2 separate regions of the Homo sapiens genome follow, and region 2 is linked to region 1. Evidence: fine-mapped expression QTL. A gene starts in region 1. The other region holds a variant in brackets. All regions are shown on one strand. Distances are from middle to middle. Region 1 holds the start of LINC02166 (long intergenic non-protein coding RNA 2166). Region 2 holds the start of VPS9D1-AS1 (VPS9D1 antisense RNA 1).

Evidence for each region.
Region 2: its variant is fine-mapped to the expression of LINC02166 in tibial nerve (GTEx, PIP 0.99).

Annotation. Positions count from the first base shown.
Region 1 is chr16:89,682,710-89,690,737 of GRCh38, reverse strand. It overlaps LINC02166 (long intergenic non-protein coding RNA 2166), which reads left to right and starts at 3,826. Exons shown (of 3, transcript NR_184152.1): 1 at 3,826-4,291; 2 at 5,063-5,928; 3 at 7,562-8,028. CDK10 (cyclin dependent kinase 10) reads right to left here and starts at 4,049. Exons shown (of 13, transcript NM_052988.5): 1 at 3,941-4,049; 2 at 1,414-1,486; 3 at 114-185. The coding sequence starts at 4,027. RefSeq lists a silencer at 3,615-3,864.
Region 2 is chr16:89,709,972-89,718,423 of GRCh38, reverse strand. It overlaps VPS9D1 (VPS9 domain containing 1), which reads left to right. Exons shown (of 15, transcript NM_004913.3): 3 at 1,602-1,694; 4 at 1,800-1,962; 5 at 5,708-5,819; 6 at 5,902-5,964; 7 at 6,325-6,377; 8 at 6,455-6,542; 9 at 7,012-7,097; 10 at 7,414-7,838. It overlaps VPS9D1-AS1 (VPS9D1 antisense RNA 1), which reads right to left and starts at 6,568. Exons shown (of 4, transcript NR_036480.1): 1 at 6,202-6,568; 2 at 5,606-5,735; 3 at 1,520-1,953; 4 at 259-1,080. RefSeq lists enhancers at 5,577-5,676, 7,174-7,737 and a silencer at 6,317-6,736. The variant C/T (reference allele first, on the strand shown) is at 3,921.

The sequences.
Region 1 (8,028 bases):
GAGGCCGGCCCCCGCTACAAGCACCGTGCAGTCGCTCTGAGGAAACTTCAGGTAACTCACATCCTTCTGCCTCCTCCCAGTGCGAGGTCCCAACACCCCAATTTCCTGCTCACCATCCTTCTCCTTGTCCATCCGCACCTTCTTCAGTGCGACAATCTCATCTGTCTGGGTGTCCCGGGCCCGATCTGGAATGGAAACACATTGGTGATGACATCATCTCGATGCCCCTCGTGGGCTCCCTAGCGCTGAACGGGAGGCTCTCCCTGAGCCACAGGGGTCCCCGTTCTTTCCTCTGACAACCTCATGCCCAGTGACACTCAGTCCCCACTCTGTGCAACGCCCCTAGCCCGAGACGCGTTCCCCCGGAGGGTTTCCTCATTTGAACTGGGCAGGGGGTGCCCAACTTTGCTCTGTGCTGGACCCTGGCCTCCAGCCACTCAGTTCTGTGGCTCCAGGCTCTCCATGTCCTCCTTAGCATGCAGATCACTGCTTTGTGCTCTCTTGTAATGTCCTAAAAGCAAATAAGGTACTCTATGCAGAAAAAAGCAAACCTTATTTTGTGTGAAGATGGCTCTACAAAACATCCTGCTAATGTGTGCAGCTTCCAGAATGACCTACGCCAATTTCACATCTGTTATAACCTTTAGTTGTGTGTGGTGTTTTTGGTTTTTTTGAGACAGGGTCTCACTCTGTTGCCAAGGCTGGGGTGCAGTGGCGTGATCACAGCTCACTGCAGCCTCAAACTCCTAGGCTTGGCCGGGTGCAGTGGCTCACACCTGTAATCCCAGTGCTTTGGGAGGCCGAGGCAGGAGGATCATTTGAGCCCAGAAGTTCAAGACCAGCCTGGGCAACATAGGGAGATCCCATCTCTACCAAAAATTTAAAAATTAGCTGGGTGTGCTTATGTACTCTTGTGGTCCCAGATACTCAGGAGGCTGAGGTGGGAGGATCACTTGAGCCTAGGAGGTCGAGGCCGCAGTGAGCTATGATCATGCCACTGCACTCCAGTCTGGGCAATAGAGCAAGACCCATCTCAAAAACAAACAAAAAGAAAAAACACCTGGGCTCAGGTGACTCCTCCAGAGTTGCTGAGGTGATAGACATGAGCACCATGTCCAGCTCCTGCTGCTTCTGGAAAGTTCTGTATTTTATTTCTCTAACAGTTCTGTGTACTCTGCAGTGACACGTTTGGATTATGGGCATTAGCAACCGGATGCTTACGTTTACCCAGAAATGGTACAATGTTTGTGATAACTACATCAGGAATTGAAGTTCCTGAACAGGTTTCTGCCCTGTTTCAGAGCACAGGGTCTGAGTCCCTTCCAGCCCCAACGCGGCTGCTGCTTCGACAGTCTCGTCCCACACTGTCACAGCCACGAGCTGCGGCCACATGTCCTAGCCTTGGCCACTCACACACAATGCCGTAGGTACCCTCTCCAATGCGGTTCAGCTTCTCAAACTCCTTCACACTCCGGCATCGTCCCAGCTGAAACAGAAGGGTGTTGCCAGTGTGGAAATTTGGCAGCTGATGGAACAACTGAGGAAATTTCAAATGGAATTTGTACCAGGGAGCCCACTCACGTCTTGCTCACCAAACAGAAAGGCAACCACACGTTTGGGCTTTTTTTTTCTTTTTTTGAGACTGAGTCTCGCTCTGTTGCCCAGGCTGGAGTGCAGTGGCAAGAACATGGTTCACTGCAACCTCCGCCTCCTGGGTTCAAGTGATTCTCCGGCCTCAGCCTCCTGAGTAGCTGGGATTACAGGCAGGTGCCACCACAACCGCCTAATTTTCTATTTTTAGTAGAGACTGGGTTTCACCATGTTGGCCAGGCTGGTCTTGAGCTCCTGACCTCAAGTGATCTGCCCGCCTTGGCCTCCCAAAGTGCTGGGATTACAAGCGTGAGCCACCGTACCCGGCCTCTTGGGCTTTTCTGATGAGAAAAGGTGGTGACGATACTGGGCCAATGCTTTGAAAGAAATATCAGAGGCGGCCACTCAGATACTCCCTTTCAATCCCACATACAAAAATACATCTGTGGCAGAGGCTGCTGTCCCAGCATCCCTGTATCACTACCTCCTGGAAGTTATGAAACGCTACCCAGTGGCATCTGGCCTTGGAATGTGAGCTGAAGGGACCGTGTGACTTCCAGGTGAAAGGAAGCTTTCACCTCTTCTCACCTCAGTGACGGGAAGAAAAAATGGAACCAGAATGCCTGACCCACCTGTGCAAAACAACTGCTTCTCTCCAGAATGTTAGGGGAGAGTGAAAAAAGGCATCATCTTGAGGCCCTGTATTTTGGGGTCTCTGAACTAGTAGAGTCTGTATCCTTCTCCATGGATCTAAGAAGCACATGTAAGCCGGGCGCAGTGGCTCACGCCTGTAATCCCAGCACTTTAGGAGGCTGAGGTGGGTGGATCACGAAGTCAGGAGATCTAGAGCACCCTGACTAACACGGTGAAACTCCGTCTCTACTAAAAATATGAAAAAATTAGCTGGGCGTGGTGGCGGGCGCCTGTAGTCCCAGCTGCTTGGGAGGCTGAGGCAGGAGGATGGCGTGAACCCAGGAGGTGGAGCTTGCAGTGAGCCGAGACTGCGCCACTGCACTCCAGCCTGGGTGACAGAATGAGACTCCGTCTCAAAAAAAAAAAAAAAAAAAAAAGCACACGTAGCAAGGTTTGAAACCTCACAGCCCCCATTTCCCGGCTTCCCTTCTCTTAACCCTCAGTATCAAACCTGGGCTCAAGCAATCCTCCCACCTCAGCCTCCCAGATTGCTGAGATTACAGGTGTGAGCCACTGGCCGCATTTGTCCTCAGTCTGATTCCTTCCTGACACCTGGGGACCGAGTCAGAAGCATCTGGCCTGTCACTCACTGATGGCCTAGTCTCAAACTCCCTTTCCCGCCTTAATTCCCCTTCTCACATCCTCTGCTTGTGCTCTTCTCGACACGCTTATTTCTGGGTGTCCAAATCCTTGTCACACTTCCTGAACTCAAAGAAATGCCAGGCCAGGCTGGGGGCGGTGGCTCACGCCTGTAATTCCAGCACTTGGGAGGCCGAGGCAGGAAGATCACTTGAGCCCAGGAGGCTGACGATGCACTGAGCCGTGATCACGCCACTGCATTCCAGCCTGGGCGAGAGCGCTAGACCCTGTCTCAAAAAAACAACAAAAAAGAAAAGGCCAACTCACTACTTCACCCCAGAGTCCAGCACACGGCTCTCAACGCGGTGAGCGCCTGCTGCACGTCTGGATGAGTAAAGTGTGGCTCCTGTTGTCATCCAGCCACGATCTGTTAATGATTCTTACTGAACACGTGGCTTGGCCTCTCAGAGCACCAGCCAGCAGTTAAAAACACAAACCAGCGGCCAAAGTTCAGGGCTCTCCACCCCCACCAGCCGTGCACCTGGGCAACACCGCCCAACGCCCAGAGGCTCTCTCCTGGTCTCTGCAGAGGGAGGCACCGGCACCTCCGCAAGGGACGCGCCCAGGGTTCGCGTGAAGCCGCCAGGCAGCGCTGGACCCCGCTCCATGCAGCCCAAGCCCAGCGGGAGCCTTCAAGCTCGAACTCGTCGCGGGTGTAAATTCTCCCCACAAACAAGTGGCTCGCGGCTCAGCCTGCAAAGCCCAGCTCGGGCGCTGAACCCAGCAGCGCCCGAGCTGGATCCCGGAGCTTGCTCTTCCCAAGTCCCGGGCCCGTCTCTCCGCGGGCGCGAGGCATCCCTGAGCCCGCCCCGGCCCCTCAGATCTCCAGGGACCGGCTGTCGGGGGTCCTGAGCCCGCCCCGCCCCGGCTTCCGCCCCCGCCGCGGGGAACTCTGGGACTGTCGTTCCCGCCCGTGCCGGAAGCCTCGGCGCGGCAGCGCGACACGAGGCTCCCCAGACCCAGCCGGGCAGTGCCGCTAGCGAGGCGGGCAGAGCTGCCCGGGTGGCACCCCGCGCACCCTGTGTTCCGGAGGCACCGTGAAGAAGCCCTCCTTACGAATACACTTCAGACGGATCTGCTCGCACTCCAGATCTGGCTCCGCCATGCCGAGCGCTGGCCCCGCCTCTCTTGCGCGCAGGCGCAGACGCGGACGGCCCCGCGGCGCAGGCGCGAAAGCTCCTTCCCGGGCTTCCTCTCCTTAGCAACGGTTACCAAGAGACGCTCCCGCGGGTCCGCCCTAGGCGCTGGGCTCCAGGGATCGGCTCCGACTGCTGCAGTTCGGGCCTTATTTTAGGGTGAAGCCCGGGCAGCCGACCCGGCTGCGCCGTAGTGGGAGGCCACGGCGATTACCCAGGTGAAGGTCTTCCAGGTGAGACGGGTTCCCCCAGGTAAGAAGGTCCTCCAGGTGGGAGTCCTTCATGTGGGGAGGTCCTCCAGGTGGGGGGGGAGGGTCCTCTCGGTGGGGGGTCCTCCAGGTAAGAGGATCCTCTAGGTGGGGGGGGGGGGTTCCCCAGGTGAAGGGCCCTCCAGGTAAGAGGATCCTCTAGGTGGGGGGGGGGTTCCCCAGGTGAGGGGACCTCCAGGTAAGAGGATCCTCTAGGTGGGGGAGTCCCCCAGGTGAAGGGCCCTCCAGGTAAGAGGGTCCTCCAGGTGAGAGGGTCCTCCAGCGGAGGGGGTCCCCCAGGTAAGAGGGTCCTCCAGTTGGGAGTCCTTCAGGTGGGGTGGTCCTCCAGGTGAGAGAGTCTTCCAGGTGAGAGGGTCCTCCAGGTGAGAGGTGAAGGTGAAGGTCCTCCAGGTGAGGGTCAGGTCACTTGGTCCAGGGATGTGGCTTCAGCAAGCATTTGGGTGCCTCCTCTGTGTTCAGGACATGGGGACTCCAGGAGACTGAAGGAAGCAAGTGGCAATGTCCATGCTGTCAAGTTCTGTCACAGAAATAAGCAGGAGTGAGTGAAAGACAGGAGAGAAGCTCTGTGAGGGGTGGCATTCAAGCTTAGCTTCTGGGCAGGAAGAGGCAGCTATGTCAGCATTCCCTAACAAGGTTTGGCAAAGTAGATACCTCCCCTCACTCATGGAAGACCTGACTTCCCAGGCTGGTAGAAGCTTCTCTCACAGGCACCTGCCTCTCCAATCTCTTTCACAGCCCAGCCCTGGAAGGTGGAAAAAGAAAAGTTGACATGGAATGTTTAGGAAGCACCATTGGTCCAGGTCCAGGATCGGGGCAGCCAGCATGTCCTCTAATCTGGCTTCACTGTTGAAATCCAGTCGAGCAAGCAGGGCCCAAACCACTGCGAGACCAGCTCGGTCGGGCCCAAACCACCGCCCACTGCGAGACCAGCTCGGTCGGGCCCAAACCACCGCCCACTGCGGGACCAGCTCGGTCGGGCCCAAACCACCGCCCACTGCGGGACCAGCTCGGTCGGGCCCAAACCACTGCCCACTGCGGGACCAGCTCGGTCGTGGAGACCCTAACCCAGCGGCGCTAGAGGAATTAAAGAAACACACACAGAAATATAGGGTGTGGAGTGGGAAATCAGGGGTCTCACAGCCTTCGAAGCTGAAAGCCTCGAACAGAGATTTACCCACATATTTATTGACAGCAAGCCAGTGATAAGCATTGTTTCTATAGATTATAGATTAAAAGCACTTCTTACGGGAAATAAAGGGATGGGTCTGGCTAGTTATCTGCAGCAGGAGCACGTCCTTAAGGCACAGATCGCTCATGCTATTGTTTGTGGTTCAGGAACTCCTTTAAGCGGTTTTCCGCCCTGGGTGGGCCAGGTGTTCCTTGCCCTCATTCCAGTGTGGGAGTCATGGCCATCATGAGCATGTCACAGTGCAGCAGAGATTTTGTTTATGGCCAGTTTTGCGGCCAGTTGATGGCCAGATTTGGGGGCCTCTTCCCAACAGCCCACAGCCAGACCTAGACTCCATTCAGATTGGTTTTGATCAGCATGTAGAAAATGGGGGAGTTGAGTGTGGTATACAAAATGGGGGTGTTGGCCAGGCGTGGTGGCTCATGCCTGTAATCCCAGCACTTTGGGAGTCTGAGGCGGGTCGATCACGAGGTCAGGAGATAGAGACCATCCTGGCTAACACAGTGAAACCCCATCTCCACTAAAAAATACAAAAAATTAGGCAGGCATGGTGGCGGGTGCCTGTAGTTGCAGCTACTCGGGAGGCTGAGGCAGGAGAATGGTGTGAACCCACGGGGCGGAGCTTGCAGTGAGCCAAGATCACACCACTACACTCCAGCCTGGGTGACAGAGTGAGACTCTGTCTCAAAAAAAAAAACAAAAAAAAAAGAAAATGCAGGTGTTGTGACCAGGCACAGTGGCTCATGCCTATAATCCCAACACTTTGGGAGGCCGAGGTAGGCAGATCACTTGAGGTCAGGAGTTCGAGACCAGCCTGGCCAACATGGTGAAACCCCGTCTCTACTAAAACTAACAAAATTAGCTGGGTGTGGTGGTGGTTGCCTGTAGTCCCAGGTACTCGGGAGGCTGAGGCAGGAGAATCGCTTGAACCCGGAAGGCGGAGGTTGCAGTGAGCCAAAATCGTGCCACTGCACTCCAGCCTGGGTAACAGAGTGAGACTTTGTGAAAGGAAGGAAGGAAGGGAGGGAGGGAGGAAAATAGAGGGAAGAAGAAAGAAAGAAAACAAAGAGCACGTGGAGAGAACAATCCTAGAAAACTGACGTAGGCTGTGTTCCTCTGAAGTCCATACACAGCAGGCAGGCGTGAAAGTGGTTTATGTATATAAATAGGTACCATTATTCTCTTCTGAGGTTTAAGTTGTCTAGCTTTCGTTCGCAGAGCTTTAAGAAAAGCACGGCTTTGGCCCGGCGCAGTGGCTCATGCCTATAATCCCAGCACTTTGGGAGGCCGAGGCCGGTGGATCATGAGGTCAGGAGTTCGAGACTAGCCTGGCCAACATGGTGAAACGCATCTCTACTAAAAATACAAAAAAATGAGCTGGCCATAGTGGTGCACACCAATAATCCCAGCTACTCGGGAGGCTGAGGCACGAGAATCACTTGAACCCAGGAGGCAGAGGTTGCAGTGAACTGATACCACACCACTGCCCGGGTGACAGAGTGAGACCCTGTCTGAAAAAACAAATAAACAAACAAAAAAAGAGAAAATAATAAAAGTTGAAAAACCTTAGGCAAGGCTAGAATCTAATAACAGGTATACTATAGTTTATTTTGAAACATAATTTTTCTCTCTCTAGTCTCCTATTTTTACCAAAGTGAAATCAGGTAGTACTGATTTGTTTTCAAAATAAGTTTTAGTCTTATTGTACTTGGCCTGGTTATTTGTATAAACTGTAGCAAGAATAAATATTTACCATGTAGGCTTTTTTTTTTTTTTTTTTTTTTGAGACGGAGTCTTGCTCTGTCGCCCAGGCTGGAGTGCAGTGGTGCGACCTCGGCTCACTGCAAGCTCCGCCTCCCAGGTTCACGCCATTCTCCTGCCTTAACCTCCCAAGTAGCTGGGACTACAGACGCCCGCCACCACGCCCGGCTAATTTTTTGTGTATTTTTAGTAGAGACGGGGTTTCACTGTGTTGACAAGGATGGTTGCAATCTCCTGACTTCGTGATCTGCCCGCCTTGGCCTCCCAAAGTGCTGGGATTACAGGCGTGAGCCACCGAGCCCGGCCACAAAAATTGTATCATTGAGAAAATTATGCCAATTGGGGAAGATCTGATGTAGCCAAACCCCCTTTGACCTTTAGCCTTCAAGCTGCCTTCAGTTATTCTTGGGCTAGCTTTGGGAGATGTTTATAGTTTACATGATAATAGCCCCTCCCCAAAACTCAACTGTATTTGTAAAACTAATGAGGGGCCACCAGGCTAGGGAGAGGAGAGGAGCCTGAATTTGGCTAAGATGTAGACATAAACAATTATCAGCCATTATTCCAGAGGTCCTGCAGATAACAATGCTATTGTAACCTAAGATTGGCCTTTTGCAGTACCTCGCAAGGGTTTTTTGCATGTCTGATACCTACGGCTCCAACAGGACCCACTGACTGATGATGGCTCCACCTGGACCTGCCAACTACTCCTGCAGCCCCACCCAGAAGCGGTTCAGCACACGGGAGGATC
Region 2 (8,452 bases), 27 kb before region 1:
GAGTGGGCGGGGTGGGGCTGTGTGCATGCCTTGGGTGGAACTGGGGCCGTTCTGGTGTGCAGGGAAACTTGAAGAGACTTTGAGCTTTGAGGGAGAGGACAGCCTGGGAGTGGAGCCTCAGGTGAGGACTGAGGATGGCAGTGGCCAGACCACCCAGGATGGGAGCAGTAAACGGCCTCGGGGTGCGTCCTGAAGGTGGAACAGAGCAGACTTGCAGGAGGCAGATGGGGCAGGAGCAAACTGGCAAGGAGAGGAATAGCAAGTTCCGCAATGAACACATTAAGTTTGAGAGGCCAGCAGCCGCTGCACAAAGGATCACAGAGGTCAGGGGGAGCCACTGGACATAGAGCACAGAGGTCAGGGGGAGCCACTGGACGTGGGATCACAGAGGTCAGGGGGACCCACTGGACGTGGGAGCACAGAGGTCGGGGGAGCCACTGGACGTGGGAGCACAGAGGTCGGGGGAGCCACTGGACGTGGGAGCACAGAGGTCGGGGGAGCCACTGGACGTGGGATCACAGAGGTCGGGGGAGCCCCTGGACGTGGGATCACAGAGGTCGGGGCAGCCACTGGACGTAGGATCACACAGGTCAGGGGGAGCTAACAGTTGCCCCAGCTCCCTAGGGAGCCGGTGAGCTCGGCTGAGCTCTGGCGCTCCAAGATTGAGGAGTTGGGTGGAGGAGTGGCAGAGGATCCCCTGGGGAGAGCAAAGTCCCAGAAGACAGAGGAACTCCAGTGGCCCACCGTGTCTGGCAAGGTGGGGACGGGTAAGGGCAGTTTCCGGGGGGAGTCGGGGGCTAAATCGGGGCGGGATGAGAAAATGGGAGTCTATGAGAAGTTTTCTGTGAAGGGCAGCAGGGAGGTGGGTCAGGCGCTGGGGCGGTGGGTCCAGGGGCGAGTCACAGAGAGGCAGCTCCCACGGCGCGCAGAAGGGCTGTGTGAGCAGGTCCATGGTCGCGCAGAGGTGCTCCATGCCAAGCTACGGGAAGGCAGGACTTTGGGGACACAGCCGGTGGGAGATGGGTGAGGCGATCCCCTCAGCACGTCCTTGTCTCTGTAAAACGGCCACTTCCCAGAGGCCTGCAGTTGCAAGTGAAGCTGAGTGAGCACTAAAGGCCTGTTTAGGGTCGAGGCTGTGACGGGCCTCGATGAGGGGCCCACAGCCTTAGCAGACTCAGGAGGCAAAACCAGGGCAGATGATTAGAAATGCGTGGGTGGGGGGACTTGCCTGGGGTCCATGGTGGGGGCAGGGGCCTTGCCTGGGGTCCATGAGGAATAGTCGGCTTGCCCGGGGTCAGTGGGGGGTGGAAGGGGCAGTGGGCTTACCCGGGGTGAGGGGATGGGGGGGCAGTGGGCTTGCCTAGGGTCAGTCAGTTGGGGGACGGGAGGGGCAGTGGGCTTACCCGGGGTGAGGGGATGGGGGGGCAGTGGGCTTGCCCAGGGTCAGTGAGGGGATGGGGGGGCAGTGGGCTTGCCCGGGGTCAGTGGGGGTGCTGAGGGGGGCAGTGGGCTTGCCTGCCTTTTCCGTTGCCTCATTTTATCTCAGCAGTAAGTAACAGTGGTAGAGCCGACTGTGACCAGCCTTCTTGTCCCTCCCCCAGAAGCTGGGGAAACTGTGCCCCCCGACACCTCCAAGATGCTGAAGCTAGCACAGCAGTGTCTGGAGAGGGCCCAGTCGACGGCCGCCAAGCTTGGTGGGTCTCCTGCAGTAGGCGGCTCTCCTGGGGCATCCCCCAAGCCCGCATCTCCTCTGTGGGATGTGGCCCACCGCTTGACCCCTGGTTACCCATGGCTTGCAGGGAAAACACGCCTGAAGCCAACCATGCCTGCAGCTGCTCCCATTCCCCAGCCTGCCGGCCGACACCGCCGTGTATACTCCGATGAAGGAGGAAAGCTCTCTCCTTTTCTGCCACCCGAGATCTTCCAGAAGCTTCAGGGGGCAGAGTCACAAAGCTGTAAGAAGTAAGATGGACAAGATGGGAGGTGGGATGAGCCTGGGATTGGGTTTTTGAGGCTGAGAAAGATGAGCTGATGACAGCGATTTTTTTTTTGTTTTTTGAGACAGAGTCTCACTCTGTCACCCAGGCTGGAGTGCAGCGGCTCAATCTTGGCTCACGGCAACCTCCACCTCCCGGGTTCACACCATTCTTCTGCCTCAGCCTCCCAAGTAGCTGAGACTACAGGCGCCCACCACCACACCCAGCTAATTTTTTGTATTTTTAGTAGAGACGGGGTTTTGCCATGTTAGCCAGGATGGTTTCGATCTCCTGACCTCGTGATGCGCCTGCCTCGGCCTCCCACAGTGCTGGGATTACAGCGTGAGTCACCGCGCCCGGCCCCCACAGTGCTGGGATTACAGGCATGAGCCACTGCGCCTGGCCTGACAGCGAATGTTTTTAAAATGAGTCCCAGAATGGGAATATCCCCTGGCCGGACACAAGCAAATGCAGGCGGCCTGGTGGCTCACGCCTGTAATCCCAGCACTGTAGGAGGCCGAGGCGAGCAGATCACCTGAGGTCAGGAGTTCCTGACCAGCCTGGCCAACATGGTAAAACCCCGTCTTTACTAAAAATACAAAAATTAGCTGGCCGTGGTGGTGTGCACCTGTAATCCCAGCTACTCAGGAGGCTGAGTCCAGGAGAATCGCTTGATCCTGGAAGGTGGAGGTTGCAGTGAGCGAAGATTGTGCCACTGCACTCCAGCCTGGGCAACAAGAGTGAAACTCCGTCTCAAAAAAAATTAGGCATAGTGGTGTGCCCCTGTAGTCCCAACTACTAGGGAGGCTGAGGTGGGAGGCTCACTTGAGCCTGACAGGTTGAGGGTGCAGTGAGCCGTGATTGTGCCAGTGCACTCCAGCTTGGGCAACAAAATGAGACTCTGTCTAAAAAAAAAAAAAATGACCGGGCGCGGTGGCTCACGCCTGTAATCCCAGCACTTTGGGAGGCCGAGGTGGGTGGATCATGAGGTCAGGAGATCGAGACCATCCTGGCCAACAAGGTGAAACCCCATCTCTACTAAAAATACAAAAAATTAGCTGGGCGTGGTGGCGGGCACCTATAGTCCCAGCTACTCAGGAGGCTGAGGCAGGAGAATCCCTTGAACCCAGGAGGCAGAGGTTGCAGTGAGTTGAGATTGCGCCACTGCATTCCAGCCTGGGCGACAGAGCAAGACTCCATCTCAAAAAAAAAAAAAAAAAAATTTAGCTGGGAACAAGGATGAGTTATATATCTATATATATGTAGAAATCCATACATACAAAACTGAGCAGACAAGTTTATAACAGCAGAGCAGATATAGCTGAAGAGCAAATTCATGTATTGGAAAAAAGGTCAAAAGATAGCTAGAATGAATTACAGAAACAAAAAATAAAGACAGAAAACAAGAGATGGAAAGCCTAACGTGTTCGTTGGAGTTCCAGAAAGAAAATGGGAGGGAGGCCAAGGCAGGCAGATCACAAGGTCAGGAGTTCAAGACCAGCCTGGCTAACATGGTGAAACCCCATCTCTACTAAAAATACAAAACTTAGCTGGGCATGGTGGCGCGTGCCTGTAACCCCAGCTACTTGGGAGGCTGAGGCAGGAGAATCGCTTGAACCCAGGAGGTGGAGGTTGCAGTGAGCCAAGATCGTGCCACTGCACTCCAGCCTAGCAACAGAGCGAGACTCCGGCTCAAAAAAAAAGAAGAAAGAAAATGGGAGAGAGGCATTATTAGAAGTTAGAATGGCAGACAGTTGTCTAGAACTGATGAAAGATACAAAGACACAAATGCAAAAAGCCCAGTGACTCCCAAGTGGGAGAGACGAGAAGGGTCCACTCCTCCTGCCCCTGCTCTGGCGGGGCCTGGCTTCCCAGTCCCCTTGTTTCTGCAATGTGGCTTCAGGGCAGGGTGGCCAGGCGTCAGGCTCTGACTTTCCTCCTTGT[C/T]CTCCATTGTCCCTGACAGTGGGAAGGTACGAGGGAACAAAGCTTTCAAGGTGGAGTGGCTGTTGGGAACTGTATAAAGGAGACAGGACACTTCTTCCTTTCATGGGTCACAGACTAATCTGGCTGTTTGACCCACATAGTGCCTTTAAAGCAGGGGTGTCCAATCTTTTGCCTTCCCTGGGCCACACTGGAAGAATTGTCTTGGGCCACACATAAAATACGCTAACACTAACAACAGCCGATGAGCTTAAAAAAAAAAATTGCAAGGCTGGGCGCAGTGGCTCCCGCCTGTAATCCCAGCACTTTGGAAGGCCAAGGCGGGCAGATTACCTGAGGTCAGGAGTTCGAGATCAGCCTGGCCAACATGATGAAACCCCATCTCTACTAAAAAATACAAAAATTAGCTGGGCGTGGTGTCACATGCCTGTAATCCCAGCTACTCGGGAGGCTGAGGCAGGAGAATCACTTGAACCCAGGAGGCGGAGGTTGCAGTGAGTTGAGATTGTGTCACTGCACTCCAGCCTGGGCGACAGAATGAGACTGACTCAAAAAAAAAAATTTTGCAAAAAAACCTCAGTGATTTTTTGAGACAGAGTCTCTATCACCCAGGCTGGAGCACAGGCACATGCCACCACACCCGGCTAATTTTTTGTATTTTTAATAGAGACGGGGTTTCACCATGTTAGCCAGGATGGTCTCAATCTCCTGACCTCATTATCCGCCTGCCTCATCCTCCCAAAGTGCTGGGATTACAGGCGTGAGCCACCGTGCCCAGCCCTCAGTGATGTTTTAAGAAAGTTTAGGAATTTGTGTTGGGCCACATTCGAAGTCATACAGCCTCGGATTGTTGCACAAGCTTGCTTTAACAAGATTCATACTGTTGCCAAACACATATAACGGATCTCCATAGAAGTCCAGTGGTCCAGCTTCTCTTGAAAAACCAAAAGTCCGGCCGGGCGCGGTAGCTCACGCCTGTAATCCCAGTACTTTGGGAGGCCGAGGCGGGTGGATCACGAGGTCAGGAGATCAAGACCATCCTGGTTAATGCGGTGAAACCCCGTCTCTACTAAAAATACAAAAAATTAGCCGGGCATAGTGGCGGGCACCTGTAGTCCCAGCTACTCAGGAGGCTGAGGCAGGAGAATGGCATGAACCCGGGAGGCGGAGTTTGCAGTGAGCCGAGATTGCGCCACTGCGCTCCAGCCTGGGCGACAGAGCGAGACTCCGTCTCAAAAAAAAAAAGAAAAAAAGAAAAACCAAAAGTCCTGGCAATACCAAAACCTGTGTTTTCTTTCTTTTTGTTATTTTTTGTTTTGGTTTTGTTTTTTTGAGACAGAGTCTCACTCTATCACCCCAGCTGGAGTGCAGTGGCCAGATCTCGGCTCACTGCATCACCTCCCGGGATCAAGCTATTCTGCCTCAGCCTCCCGAGTAGCTGGGATTACAAGTGTGCACCATGCCCAGCTAATTTTTGTATTTTTAGTAGAGACAGAGTTTCACCATGTTGGCCAGGCTGGTCTCGAACTCCTGACCTCAGGTGATCCGCCCGGCCTTAGCCTCCTAAAGTGCTGGCATTAGAGGCGGGAGCCACTGCACCTGGCCAAAACCTGTGTTTTGGAAGGGCAGGCAAGAAGGGGCAGATGTTGCAGCCCACCCCAGATGGCTCCCCTCCTCTTTCTCCTCACCTCCTGGCCTCAGAGCAATCCGGGAGGATGAGAGAGACTCCTCTGGTGTCCAGACACCACTGGGCTTCCTGGGGTCTAGACAGCAGCTTGTCACATTTCCAGAGAGCTGACGCCACTGGAGGAGGCCTCCCTGCAGAATCAGAAGCTGAAGGCTGCGTATGAGGCCCGAATGGCGCGGCTAGACCCCAGCCAGGCCATGCAGAAGACATCCCTGGTGAGTGGGGGCTAGGGAGGGCCTGGGGGTGCGTGGGCGCGGGGCAGAGGGGAGTCGGCCTTACTCCCTCCTCCCCCCCCAGACCCTCTCTCTACAGCGGCAGATGATGGAGAACCTAGTGATTGCCAAAGCCCGGGAGGAGACAGCAGCCTTTCTGACCGCCCTGGTGGTCCCCGAGGGGAAACTCAGTGTGGCCTTGAGCCAAGGGCAGAGAAGGGGGCAGCGAGGGGAGCGGAGGTTCCGGGGTCGGGGTACAGGGCCGAGGGGCTCCCCGCTTTGCAGAGGCAGGGTCTCAGGGGAAGGCCCGGCCGCCGTCCCCCATGTTCTCTGGCCCGGCCCTCCTGGCTTGAGCGCAGGCTGCCTTCTGCCCCAGAAGCCTTACCTGGGGACAGCCCCTCACCGAGAGGAGGTCCCTGGGACGTCCCGGCCTCTCCGGGTGTGGGACGGGGTTGGGAACCGAGGGCCCGCTCAGATCCCACGCTCGGCCCCTTGACTCTGCACCCAGCTCCAGAGAAAGATGGAGGAGCGCCGGCTGCGGCTCCAGGAGGCCGCCAACAGGTGGGACTCCTGCCCGCCCCTGGGGCCGCTGCGGGGAGGGCCTGGCCCCGGCACCCACCGCGTGCCTTTCTCCCCAGGAGGTTTTGCAGCCAAGTCGCCCTGACCCCGGAGGAACGGGAGCAGCGGGCCCTTTACGCCGCCATCCTGGAGTACGAACAGGACCATGTGCGTCCCCCACGGGCCCAGGCTTTGTAGGAGGAGCCCAGCGAGGGGGGCGGGGTCAGAGCCGCCTGGGTGGGCCCCCGTGGGGGGCGGAGCCAGAGGCTGTGGGGGGCAGTGAGGGGGCGGGGCCAGAGGCCCGTGGGAGGGCCCGGTGAGGGGGCGGGGCCAGGGCTGCGTGGGGCGGGGCAGAGCGAGGAGGCGAGGTCAGGGGTCGCGTGGGAGGGTCCCAGCGAGGAGGGAGGGTCCCTGCGAGGAGGGAGGGTCCCAGCGAGGGTGCAGGCCCAGGGTTCGCCTAAGGTTTCCCTCGGGTGTGGGTGGGGGCGGGGGCGGGTCGCGGGGCCTGCTGGCGCTGGGTCTCCTGCACCCCAGGACGGGCTCCCACAGTCTCTAGGGGTCGGCACTGGTGGGAGATGAGGCGCGTCCGGTCGTGGCGGACCCACCGTGCTTTCCTTCAAGGCCCCCTGTCCCGTAGGACTGGCCGAAGCACTGGAAGGCCAAGCTCAAGAGGAATCCGGGGGACCTGTCACTCGTGACCAGCCTGGTCTCACACCTGCTCAGGTAGCTGGGCCTTCAGGCCCCACAGAGCCCCTGCGCACCGGCCTTGGGCACCTCTGCCTGGTGCCAGGTGCCGGAGAGGGGCTGGACTGACACAGGGAGCCTGTGCCCGGCCACGTGGACACTGCAGCTCCCTTTGCGCTGAGGGCGTTTCCTCGGCTTCTCCAACCTCCCCAGCGGGGGCGGGGGGCAGACTTTCCAACATTCACTGTCAGGAGGTAATGCAAGTCGCTTCTCTGAAACCGGGCATAGCGCGGCACCTGTGGATGCCACGGAGAGGCCGAGGCTGGCCGCGTTCTCACGTCCTCTTCTCCCGCAGCCTCCCCGACCACCCGATCGCGCAGCTCCTGAGGCGGCTGCAGTGCTCCGTGTACAGCGCCCTGTATCCCGCCGTGAGCAGAGCAGCCGCGCCAGCCCCAGGCTGCTGCCCCCCGACCCCCAACCCCGGAAGCCGACGGCTGCGGCCCTCGCAGAGCCTCCATTGCATGCTGTCCCCGCCCGAGCCCAGCGCAGCCCCGCGGCCCCAGGACAGTCCCCCCACGCCCCCACTCCAACCCGGCCCCGTGGGGTCTCCCTCACCCCTGGGGGACACCGCATCTGGATTGCCAGACAAGGACAGCTCGTTCGAGGACCTGGAGCAGTTCCTGGGGACGTCTGAGCGGCAGGGCCGGGGCCGTGGGGTACAGCCGGAGCCCCAGCTGCAGCAGCTGAAGACCGCGGTGGAGGAGATCCACAATGCCGTAGGTGAGGCCAGGCCCTCCCTGGGAGAGCCGCCGCAGCTCTTCACCCCTGCTTATTGGTCCGTTTCAAGCTTCTGTTTGGGGAAGGGTCTGTTGATCAGAGACTCTGATCAGACTTACATCCACCCAGCTCACGCCTCAGCCCTTCTCATTTTGGAAACAGTGTGGTAGAAACGGAGTTTCACCATGTTGGTCAAGCTGTTCTCAAACTCCTGACCTCAGTTGATCTGCCCACCCCGGCCTCCCAAAGTGCTGGGATTACAAGCATGAGCCACCGCGCCCAGCCCAGAGTTTTCTAAGAACCACTGAGGGAGGCCCAACAGTCCAGGCGTCATTCTCACTGTGCTGCCCACACACTAAGGAACTTGGTCAGGGTCCCCACCCACAGGGGGTTGGATCTAAAGTCTTCCCTGGTTCCTGCAGTTTTGGGTAAAGCCCCTTTTGAGAAAAGGATCATTCTCCGGTTTCTTCTCAGGCTGCTGGCCCAACAGGGCAGCAGCTGTAGGTGACCGTTTCCAGTCCCGGACTCCCTGCCCTGGGCCGAGGAGGGTCAGGGGTGGGTGCAGGAGGCTTGAAGGCGGTGGAAAGAGGTTTCTTGGGCGGAGAAAGGCCCCGTGG